Regions from separate parts of the Homo sapiens genome. Here region 1 is linked to region 2. The links come from fine-mapping of genetic effects on gene expression. A gene starts in region 2. The other region holds a variant in brackets. All regions are shown on one strand. Distances are from middle to middle. Region 1 has its middle 27 kb from the start of RUFY4. Region 2 holds the start of CXCR1 (C-X-C motif chemokine receptor 1).

Region 1 (5,387 bases), 71 kb before region 2:
TATTTGAGGTAGAGAACATTTAGGAGAGGAGGGGGACGGGGAGAGGAGGAAGAGGAGGATGAGGAGCAACTAACAGAGCGAAGCATCATTCCAAGTGTTTATCAGTATAGACTCATTTAATCCACATAACAACCCCATGTAGGAGCTGCTCTCATTATATCCACTTCACAGATAATGAAACTGAGACCCAGTGAGATTAAATCACTTGACCAAAGTCCAGGACTAGGTAGATGGATTCTAACTCACACAGCCCAGTCTGGAACCCACAACTTTGCATGACCATTGCCTTAGGTGAAGTGAGAGAGAATAAAGTATTGCCTAACACTCTCAGTGAAGATGGTGAGGAGGAGATAGTCAGGAGTGTTCTTAAGGAGAGGAAGAGTAAGGAGCAGGTACATTTCTGGTTTGGCAGATGATTGAACAAGGAACCACTCAGGAGAAAGACGTGTCAGGAAATACAATGAGATTAGTTTTCTACATGCTGAATTTGCAAAATCTGTAGGCCCTCAGGGAGATTTAAGGAGATAATTGCATGTCAGAGTTTGGAGCTTAGGGGAGACACTTGTTGGGAGCAGTAGCTATGGGAGACTCTGGCACATGTCGGATGGCAGCTGAAGCCATGAAAACCAGTGGACTCACCAAGAGGGGGCAGTAGAGTGAAAAGAGAAGAAAACCAAAGTAGAATCCTCAGGAACCTCAATATTTGAGGAATAAGTTAAGAAATAGAGCAATAAACAAGACAAGAGAGGTCAAGGGGAATAGAGGAGAATGGGTTAGTGGGATTCAGTGATATAGAGATCAAGTAAGACCTGAACGGTAACTTTCCACCATAAATAAAGATGAAAAGCATACAGCAGGCAGGAAGAAAATATCTTAACATAATTGACAAATATTCAAAACATAATTATATAAAGAGCTCCTACAAATCAGTAACAAAATCAATCAATAACAAAATAACAATCCAAGGCTGGGCATGGTGGTTCACGCCTGTCCCAGCACTTTGGGAGGCCGAGGTGGGTGGCCAGGGATTCGAGACCAGCCTGGCCGACATGGCGTGAAACCCTGTCTCTACTAAAATTACAAAAATGACCCAGGAGTGGTGGTGAACACTTGTAGTCCCATCTACTCGGGAGGCTGAGGCATGAGAATGGCTTGAATTTGGAAGGCAGAGGTTGCAGTGAGCCAAGATTGCACTCCAGGCTGAGCAACAGAGTGAGACTCTGTCTCCAAAAAAAAAAAAATTTTATTTCTTGCCATGCGCAGTGGCTCATGCCTGTAATCCCAACACTTTGAGAGGCAGAGGCAAGAGAATCACTTGAGGCCAAAAAAAAATAACAAAATAACAATCCAAAGCAAAAGGGAAACAGATAAGAATAACTAATTCAGCTGGGCCCAGTGGCTCACACCTGTAATCCCAGATATACAGGAGGCTAAGATGGCAGGATCACTTGAGGTGAGATATATACATATATATGATATAGTAGATATATCTTTTTTATTAAGAAAAGAAGGAAGGAAAACATGTTTGTATTTGCATAGAGAGAATTCCAGGAAAATGTACACACCAAGTTGTAGACAGTAGTTATCTGAGGAAAAGATATGGGTGAACAGAGGAACGGAAGAGAGACTTTCCAGCTGTGCTTTATATGCTTTTGTGCTTTTTTATTGCTTGTATTCTTTACAATATGCATGCTTTGTTTTGTCATATTAAAAGTTTTGTGTGTTTGTGTGTTTCTTTTTTGTTTCAATAGTTTTGGGGTACAGGTGGTTTTCTGTTACATGGATAAGTTCTTTAGAGGTGATTTCTGAGAGATTTTTATGCACCTGTCACCCAAGCAGTGTACACTGTACCCAATATGTAATCTTTTATCCCTCACCTCCCTCCCAACCTTCTTCCCTGCATCACCAAAATCTGCTATATCACTCTTAGGCCTTTGCATCCTCATAGCTTAGCCCCCACTTATAAATGAGAACATATGATATTTGGTTTTCCATTCCTGAGTTACTTTACTTAGAATAACGGCTTCCAGCTCTATCCAAGTTGCTGCAAAAGACATTATTTTGTTCATTTTTATGGCTGAGTAGTATTGTATGGTGTATGTAGGGAAAAGAAAGAGAGATCAGACTGTTACTGTGTCTATGTAGAAAAGGAAGACATAAGAAACTCCATTTTGACCTGTACCCTGAACAACTGTTTTGTCCTGAGATGCTGTTAATCTGTAACTTTGCCCCAACCTTGAGCTTATAAAAACATGTGTTGTATGGAATCAAGGTTTAAGGGATCTAAGGCTGTGTAGGATGTGCCTTGTTAACAAAATGTTTACAGGCAGTATGCTTGGTAAAAGTCATCGCCATTCTCCGGTTTCGATAAACCAGGGGCACAATGCACTGCAGAAAGCCGCAGGAACCTCTGCCCTGGAAAGCCGGGTATCATCCAAGATTTCTCCCCATGTGATAGTCTGAAATATGGCCTTATGGGATGGGAAAAACCACACTGTCCCCCGGCCCGACACCCGCGAAAGGTCTGTGCTGAGGAGGATTAGTAAAAGAGGAAGGCCTCTTGCAGTTGAGATAAGAAGAAGGCCTCTGTCTCCTGCCTGCCCCTGGAAACGGAATGTCTCAGTATAAAACCCGATTGTACATTTGTTCAATTCTGAGATAAGAGAAAAACTGCCCTGTGGCAGGAGGCGAGACATGTTGGCAGCAATGCTGCTCTGTTATTCTGAGATGTTTGGGTGGAGAGAAGCATAAATCTGGCCTATGTGCACATCTAGGCATAGTATCTTCCCTTAACCTTATTTGTGACACAGATTCATTTGCTCACATGTTTTCTTGCTGACCTTCTCCCCACTATCACCCTGCTCTCCTACCGCATTCCTCTTGCTGAGATCGTGAAAATAGTAATTAATAAATACTGAGGGAACTCAGAGACCAGTGCTGGTGTGGGTCCTCCGTATGCTGAGCGCCGGTCCCCTGGGCCCACTGTTCTTTCTCTATAATTTG[T/C]GTCTGTGTCTTATTTCTTTTCTCAGTCTCTCATCCCACCTGAAGAGATATACCCACAGGTGTGGAGGGGCAGGCCACCCCTTCAGGTGTATATAAACCACATTTTCTGTATCCACTCATTGGTTGATGGGCATTTAGGTCGGTTCCATATCTTTGCAATTGTGAATTGTGCTGCTATAAACATGTGTGTGCAAGTGTGCTTTTCACATAATGACTTCTTTTCCCTTGGATAGATACCCAGTAGTGGGATTGCTGGATCAAATGGTAGTTTCACTTTTAGTTCTTTAAGAAATCCCCACACTGTTTTCCATAGTGGTTGTACTTTGCATTCTCACCAGCAGTGTAAAAGTGGTCTCTTTTCACCACATCCATGCCAACATCTATTGTTTTTTTGACTTTTGAATTATGGCCATTCTTGCAGGAGTAAGGTGGCATCTCATTCCAGTTTTCATTTGCATTTCCCTGATGATTAGTGATGTTGAGCATTTTTTCATGTTTGTTGGCTGTTTGTATATCTTATTTTGAGAAATGTGTAATCATGTCCTTTGCCCACTTTTTGACAGGATTATTTGGTTTCTTCTTGCTGATTTGTTTGAGTTCCTTGTAGATTCTAGATACTAGATTCTAGTCCTTTGTCAGATGCTTATTTTGCTGATTTGAGTTCCTTGATTCTGGATACTAGTCCTTTGTCTGAATACACAGTTTGCTAATATTTTCTCCCACTCTGGGCTGTCTGTTTACTCTGCTGGTTATTTCTTTTGCTATGCAGGAGCCTTTTAGTTTAATTAGGTCCCATTTATTTATTTTTGTTTTCATTGCATTTGCTTTTGGGATCTTAGTCATAAATTCTTTGCCTAAGCCAATATCCAGAAGAGTTTTTCCAAAGTTATCTTCTAGAATGTTTATGGTTTCAGGTCCTAGATTTAAAGTCTTTGATCCATCTTGAGTTGATTTTTGTATATGGTGGGAGATGGGGATCCGGTTCCATTCTTCTACATGTGGTTTCCCAGCACCTTTTATTGAAATGTCCTTTACTCAATTTATGTTTTTGTTTGTTTTATCAAAGGTCAGATAGCTGCATTTGGCTTTATTGCTGGGTTCTCTATTCTGTTCCCTTAGTCTACATGCCTATTTGTATACTAGTACCATGCTGTTTGGTAATTGTAGCCTTGTAGTATAATTTGTAGTCAGGTGATGTCTTCAGATTTATTCTTTTTGCTTAGTTTTGCTTTGGCTTTGTGGCCTCTTTTTTGGTTCCATACAAATTTCAGGATTTTTTTTCTATTTCTATGATGACTGATGATGGTATTTTGATGGGAATGGCATTGAATCTGTAGATTGCTTTGGGCAGTATGGTCATTTTCACAATATTAATTTTTCCATCCATGAGCATGGGGAGTGTTTCCAATTGTTTGTGTAATCTATGATTTTTCAGCAGTGTTTTGTAGTTTTCTTTGTAGAGATGTTACACCTCCCTGGTTAAGCGTATTCCTAGGTATTTTATTTTATTTTTTGCAGCTGTCATAAAAGAGATTGAGTTCTTGATTTGATTCTCAGCATGGTCGTTGTTGGTAGATAGCAGTGCTACTGATTTGTGTACATTGATTTCATAACCTGAGACTTTACTGAATTCATTTATCAGATCTAGGAGCTTTCTGGATGAGTCTTTAGGGTTTTTTAGGTATACGATCATATCAGCAGTGAACAGTGACAGTTTGACTTCCTCTTTTCCAATTTGGATGCCATTTATTTCTTTCTCTTGTCTGATTGCTGTGGCTGGGACTTCCAGTACTATGTTGAATAGGAGTGGTGAACGTGGGCATCCTTGTCTTATTCCAGTTCTCAGGGGGAATGTTTTCAACTTCTCCCCATTCAGTATGATGTTGGCTGTGGGTTTGTCATATAATGGCTTTATTACTTTGAGCTAAGTCCCTTCTATGCCTATTTTGTTGAGGGTGCTGGATTTTATTAAATGCTTTGTGTCTATTGAGATGATCATATGGTTTTCCTTTTTAATTCTATCTATGTGATGTATCACATTTATTGACTTGTGTATGTTAAATCATCCCTGCATCCCTGGGATGAAACCCATTTGATCATGATGTATTATATTTTTGATGTGCTGTTGGATTTGGTTAGCTAGTATTTTATTGAGGATTTTTGTATCTATAGTCATCAGGGGTATTGGTCTATAGTTTTCATTTTTTGTTATGTCCTTTCCTGGTTTTGGTATTAGGGTGACACTGGCTTCATACAGTGATTGGGGTGTGGGGGGGAATTCCTTCTTTCTTTATCTTTTGGAATAGTTTCAGTAAGACTGGTACCAATTCTTCTTTGAATGCCTGGTAGAAATCAGCTGTGAATCCATCTGTTCCTGGACTTTT
Region 2 (5,387 bases):
CAGGACCTCATAGCAAACTGGACTGGAATTGTTTGGATGGTAAGCCTGGCGGAAAAGGAAGAAGGGCAGGGACAGATTCATAGACAGTCCCCAGCAGCCAAGACAAACAAACTTGACCAAGTGACGCTTCTGGGTCAGTGTGCGTGTGGCATGGACAATGGCCAGGTAACGGTCCACACTGATGCAGGCCAACAGCAGGATGCCACTGTAGAAGTTGACTTCCTTCAGGAGTGAGACCACCTTGCACAGGAATGTGCCAAAAATCCAGCCATTCACCTTGGAGGCGGCCCAGATGGGCAAGGTCAGGGCAAAGAGTAGGTCGGCCAAGGCCAGGTTCAGCAGGTAGACATCAGTGACGGAGCGGCCGACCCTGCTGTATAAGATGACCAGCATCACCAGGGAGTTTCCCAGCAGGCTCAGCAGGAACACTAGGGCATAGGCGATGATCACAACATACTTGTTGAGTGTCTCAGTTTCTAGCATACAGGGGCTGTAATCTTCATCTGCAGGTGGCATGCCAGTGAAATTTAGATCATCAAAATCCCACATCTGTGGATCTGTAATATTTGACATGTCCTCTTCAGTTTCAGCAATGGTTTGATCTAACTGGAAGGTTAGAAGGAAGGAAATGTGATTTAGTAGCTCGGATTCAAGGCATTCTCATCAATGATGTGAGAGCAGTTACTGGGATATCCTTGGCTTCCCTGTTGGTTTGGCAATGAGAGCTCTCCTTCCTCCTTTGACTCCAACCTGGTCTTCTTCGGAGGTTGGCTTCCCAGTGTTCTCCACCTTCCACAACTCTAAGGCCTGGCCTGAGTGTGGGGTAAGATGGAATATGGGGAAAACACCTTAGCCCTAGCTCAACCTACAACTGCCTCCTCTCAGCCTATGTCTCTACCTCTGTCCCTCTTTAGCCTTCTCCATCCTCAGCTGTGTCTGTGCATTTGGATGTGGGGACCAGGTTGGTCTTAGACATTCAGGGAAGGGCCAGCATTAAGCAAAATGCAAGAAGGCAAACCTGTTCCCAGGTGTCCCCTTCTACTATTTCTATTCCTATGTTCTCCCTGATTCTTGTTTACCCTCCTTAAAATCTACTGGGGGAAGGAAGTGATAACAACACATTGCATTAAACTGTATATTTTAAGCCTTCTTTAAATGAGGAGCACATATTTTGTTCCTCTGTCTAAAGGAGTTTTAAGTATTTGAGAAGATAAAGTCTCCATCTTGGTCCCTGAAACCCTCCACCCCTGAAAAAATCCACAGAATCATTCAAGAGTTTTCAAATATATTTCCTATTGTGAAATAGTTTACTGAAATAAGATCTTCCCAGAAGCCCAGTATGTGAAGCAGATAAAAGCTGAGCCACTGTGGGGCAGAGTGTGCTAATCTCCGAACCCAGATGGCCCCTAAAGAGCCCCTCAAAGCTCCAGGACTCTCCAGAGAAGTCTGAAAGCCTTTGGAAAGTCACCGAGGTTGGTTGTAAAGACACCTAGCATCCAGTCTTCATTCCATCCTGATTCTACCATTAATAAGTTTCGTGTGTAATCCCAGCCCTTTGGGAGGCCAAGGCAGGCAGATCATGAAGTCAGGAGTTCGAGACCAGCCTGACCAAAATGATGAAACCCCGTCTCTACTAAAAATACAAAAAAATTAGCTGGGTGTGGTGGCGTGCACCTGTAATCCCAACTACTCAGGAGGCTGAGGCAGGAGAATCACTTGAACCCGGGAAATGGAGGTTGCAGTGAGCCGAGATCGTGCCACAGTACTACAGCCTAGGCGACAGAGTGAGACTCCATCTCAAAATAAATAAATAAATAAATAAATAAGTCTCATGACCTTGAGTGGGGTCTCGTACCCCTATAGATTTCAGTCTTCTCATCTGCAAATCGAGGAAGACAGAATCATCCACCTCTCATTTGCTGCCAGGCCTGAGGGTGTATGATGAGTCCACTCAGATCCACACATTTTAGTGTGTTCCCTCCCTACCAGTATTTGCATTTTCACTGAAGACAAAGTCTTAAGGTGAAGCAATAAACATCAAATTGGGGAATGGTCAGCCTCTTCCCACAAAAGGGCAAGGTATAAAAAGAGGGGATGAGGAGGCTGTCCTCTTCACCTGCTAACTCCATGTATGAGTGGTGGTCACAAGAGAGGAAGCGGGCAGCAGAAATCCTCAGCTCCCACAGAAATGAATACATTTTCCAAAATAAAGTCAAGCCAAGCAGCCCTACCCCACAGAAAGTCCTAGCAAACAGAGGTGGCTTCCTACCTGAAGCACCGGCCAGGTGTGTCCAACAGTAGGAGCTGCAGTCAGAGATCAGAGTGACTTAACAGCTAGAGGGCACTTGATGAATAAACGGAAATAAGGAAACCACATCAGATGACACCTCCCTTCTGAGCCCCACCCATGTCTACATTTGGGGAAGAACAGTTTAAGTCAAGGGATCACAGACTTGTGATTAGAGACTGCCAGGGTCCATATGACCAAGTGGGGGTCCCAGGTGTGAAGCTGGGGTTGAGGGTCCATTATCTGAATTCTCCACTCTATGGATGATCATTTTTATTATTTTCCTTTTCTTGAATTTATTTCCATTTGTTTATTCCTAAATTCCCTAGTATATCACCTGTGGAAGCTTGCAACTTCCTGACCAAGTATAAAGGGCGAAGGATTTGACTTACAGCAGAGACTTCAGAAGGAGTCCCCCATAGGAGGGACTTGGGGGCAATCCAGTGGGAAAGAGGAGGAGGACTGCGCTTGAGTTGTGTTTGAACAGCAGGCACTCAATCTCTACTTATTTTGCAGGCTTCTTTGAGGTGGCCTAGCTCGGATTCAAGGCATTCTCATCAAGGATGTGAGAGCAGTTACTGGGATATCCTTGGCTTCCCTGTTGGTTTGCCAACGAGAGCTCCCCTTCCTCCTTTGCCTCCAACCTGGTCTTCTTTGGAGGTTGGCTTCCCAGTGTTCTCCACCTTCCACAACTCCAAGGCCTGGCCTCAATCTCTACTTATTTTTCAGGCTTTTTGAGGGTATTTGAATGGAACACAAACCCTCCTTTGCCGCCAGCCACTCTTTCGCACAATCACTGCCAATGACCAGTTGGTTTAAATGGCCCTGAGGCTGACGGCATAGGCCACTCCCAGAGTCTGGCTGGTTAGCAGAGAGACCACAGAGCTGGGGCAGTCCATGAATGGAAGAGCTGTGGTCAAGGTCACTGCAGCCCCCATCTCAGTAACGGAGAATGGCTTCTCTGGGAACCCACCTTAGCTGCCTCCAGCAGCTAATGGCTGTCCCCTAGCTTGAGTCTTCTGGCACCTTCGTCACTTCTCCATATAACATGAACCCTGCTGTGAGGCATTTACAAGTCAGCCCTCTTCTAGCTTGGGAGCCATGAGACAGCAAGAACCTTCTTCAATTCATGTTTATGTTCTCTTTCAGGGAATATAGTAGGTGCTCAATCAATGGTTGTGGAATAAATGAAGGGAGACATTTCTCCTGTGATTCATGGACCATAAGTCACCACCACGATTCAGTGTCTATTGCTTTTGGCTACACACTAAAGTCACTGGTATGCCTGATAGCTTCACTTCCACACAGCCCAGTTGGTCTGCCTGGCATTGCTTCTTTCCAACCTTCCTCTAATGTTTGGAGCTAATGCCAGTCTGTGCAAGTATAAATCCTGCCCTACCACAAATGCCAAATTTACCATGCCATGGATTCCTACAGTTCTGCACTGGAAAGAATTTTTTTCTTTTTTTAAGAGACAGGCTCTCACTGTGTTGCCAAGGCTAGAATGCAGTGGTGTGATCATAGCTCAGTGTAACCTCAAATGCCTGGGCTCAAGCAATCCTCCCACCTCAACCTCCTGAATAGCTGGGACTACAGGCAAGAGCCACTACATCTGGCTTTCTTTTTTTATATTATATTTTTATTTTTATTTTTTATTTAGTTATTTATTTATTTGTAGAGAAAGGGTCCTGATATACTGCCCAGGCTTATCTTGAACTCCTAGCCTCTAGTGATCCTCCTGCCTTTGCCTCCCAAAGCACTGGGATTACAGGCATAAGCCACCATGCCCAGCCGGCAAGCCTATTTTTTAAGCTAAGTTGTGCTTTCCTCCTGGGCTCTTTTATCATTCATAGATGGTAACAGGAAGTGTAAGGGGACAATAGCCACTCATGCTTTGCTTTTACTGATGTTGGACTATTGTGCTCTAACGCCTAGACTAGAAAGGAGTCAAAGATGGGGTAGTCCCAGGAGGTGGGAGACTCCCTCTATTAATCATCTAGGGAAAATCAGCCCCAAGGGCAGAAAATAGTCACTGGGGACACAGGAGAAAAAAGACGGGGGCCTAGACTGCAAAACACCTGCCTATACTCAAGAAAGACCCTGAGGCCGGGAGAAGGATAGTTTTTGCCACAAGGGGGCAGCAGTTGCTAGACAGGGAATCCCCTGTGAGACACCCCCTTGAGAAAGACCAGGGCCAAGAGCAGGTATATTTAACACCGTATGTTAAGTTCTTCTTGGTGTATAGTTCCCTTCTGCTTTTCCTAAACCCTCAGTAAGTCGGTTCACTATTCCAGTCTATTTCAAGGAATCACTGAGGGGTTAGGGAAGAGGCTGGTCTCCTGGAGCCCGAGGAGTGAAGGGGAGCAGCCCTGCTGCATGAGTGTGGTGAGGGCAACAGCAATGCTGGGGTCTCCAGGAGAAGTTGCATCTGGAGGACAAGGGTGGAAAGAACCTTTCACTTCGCAGTAGGACGAGCATTTCACTGAAGGAGGGAGAAAGCACATATAGATGAGTTTAGAATAAAATTTTACCCACTTCAAAATGTTCCAGCAAGTCAGCCCACCCAACCTATCTTCTATACCTCACTTCCCACTTATAACTGTGCCCTCTTAAAATGGCCTAGAATGTTCCTGCTGAGAAGCATTTTTCCATTCCATGTAGAGCTCCTAATGCCACAAAGAAAGCTGTGACAGGTGCAGCCCGAATGCCAGTCAACTGGCAAAATGTAGTATCTCTTTGGGTGACATCTTCTTACCACTCTGTTTTAAACATGATGACTTCTGCACAGACCATGTGAACAGCACAATGTGGCTGTAAGAACATCTATTTTGTCCCTGCATCAGCCTTATGCCAGCTTCAGCATCTCTTCTCATTCCTCCAGAAGAATCCACTTGGATCTGGGATCAAAGTAGAGGAAAGGGGTAGAGGGAGGTTTCTCCTCTCTCCCCAGTGACGTCCTCGTAACCACAGCAACAGGCTCAGGGAGTGAGTCTGTGACCCAAGATGATCCAGTCAGAGCAAAGTTCAGATGTTTGCTCAATGAATGTGGAAAAGCAAGTATATAGTCTTGTTGCAGTCAGCAGCCATTTTGCTACCATAA

The links. PIP is the estimated chance that this variant, and not a neighbour inherited with it, causes the effect. A credible set is the group of variants that fine-mapping cannot tell apart.
Region 1: its variant is the best candidate, but not a certain one, in a credible set for the expression of CXCR1 in whole blood (TOPMed, PIP 0.68).

The regions. Positions count from the first base shown.
Region 1 is chr2:218,093,441-218,098,827 of GRCh38, forward strand. No RefSeq gene overlaps it. Among named protein-coding and RNA genes, the nearest start is that of RUFY4, 27 kb to the left of the region's middle. The variant T/C (reference allele first, on the strand shown) is at 3,004.
Region 2 is chr2:218,164,639-218,170,025 of GRCh38, forward strand. CXCR1 (C-X-C motif chemokine receptor 1) reads right to left here and starts at 2,324. Exons shown (of 2, transcript NM_000634.3): 1 at 2,270-2,324; 2 at 1-606. The coding sequence starts at 573.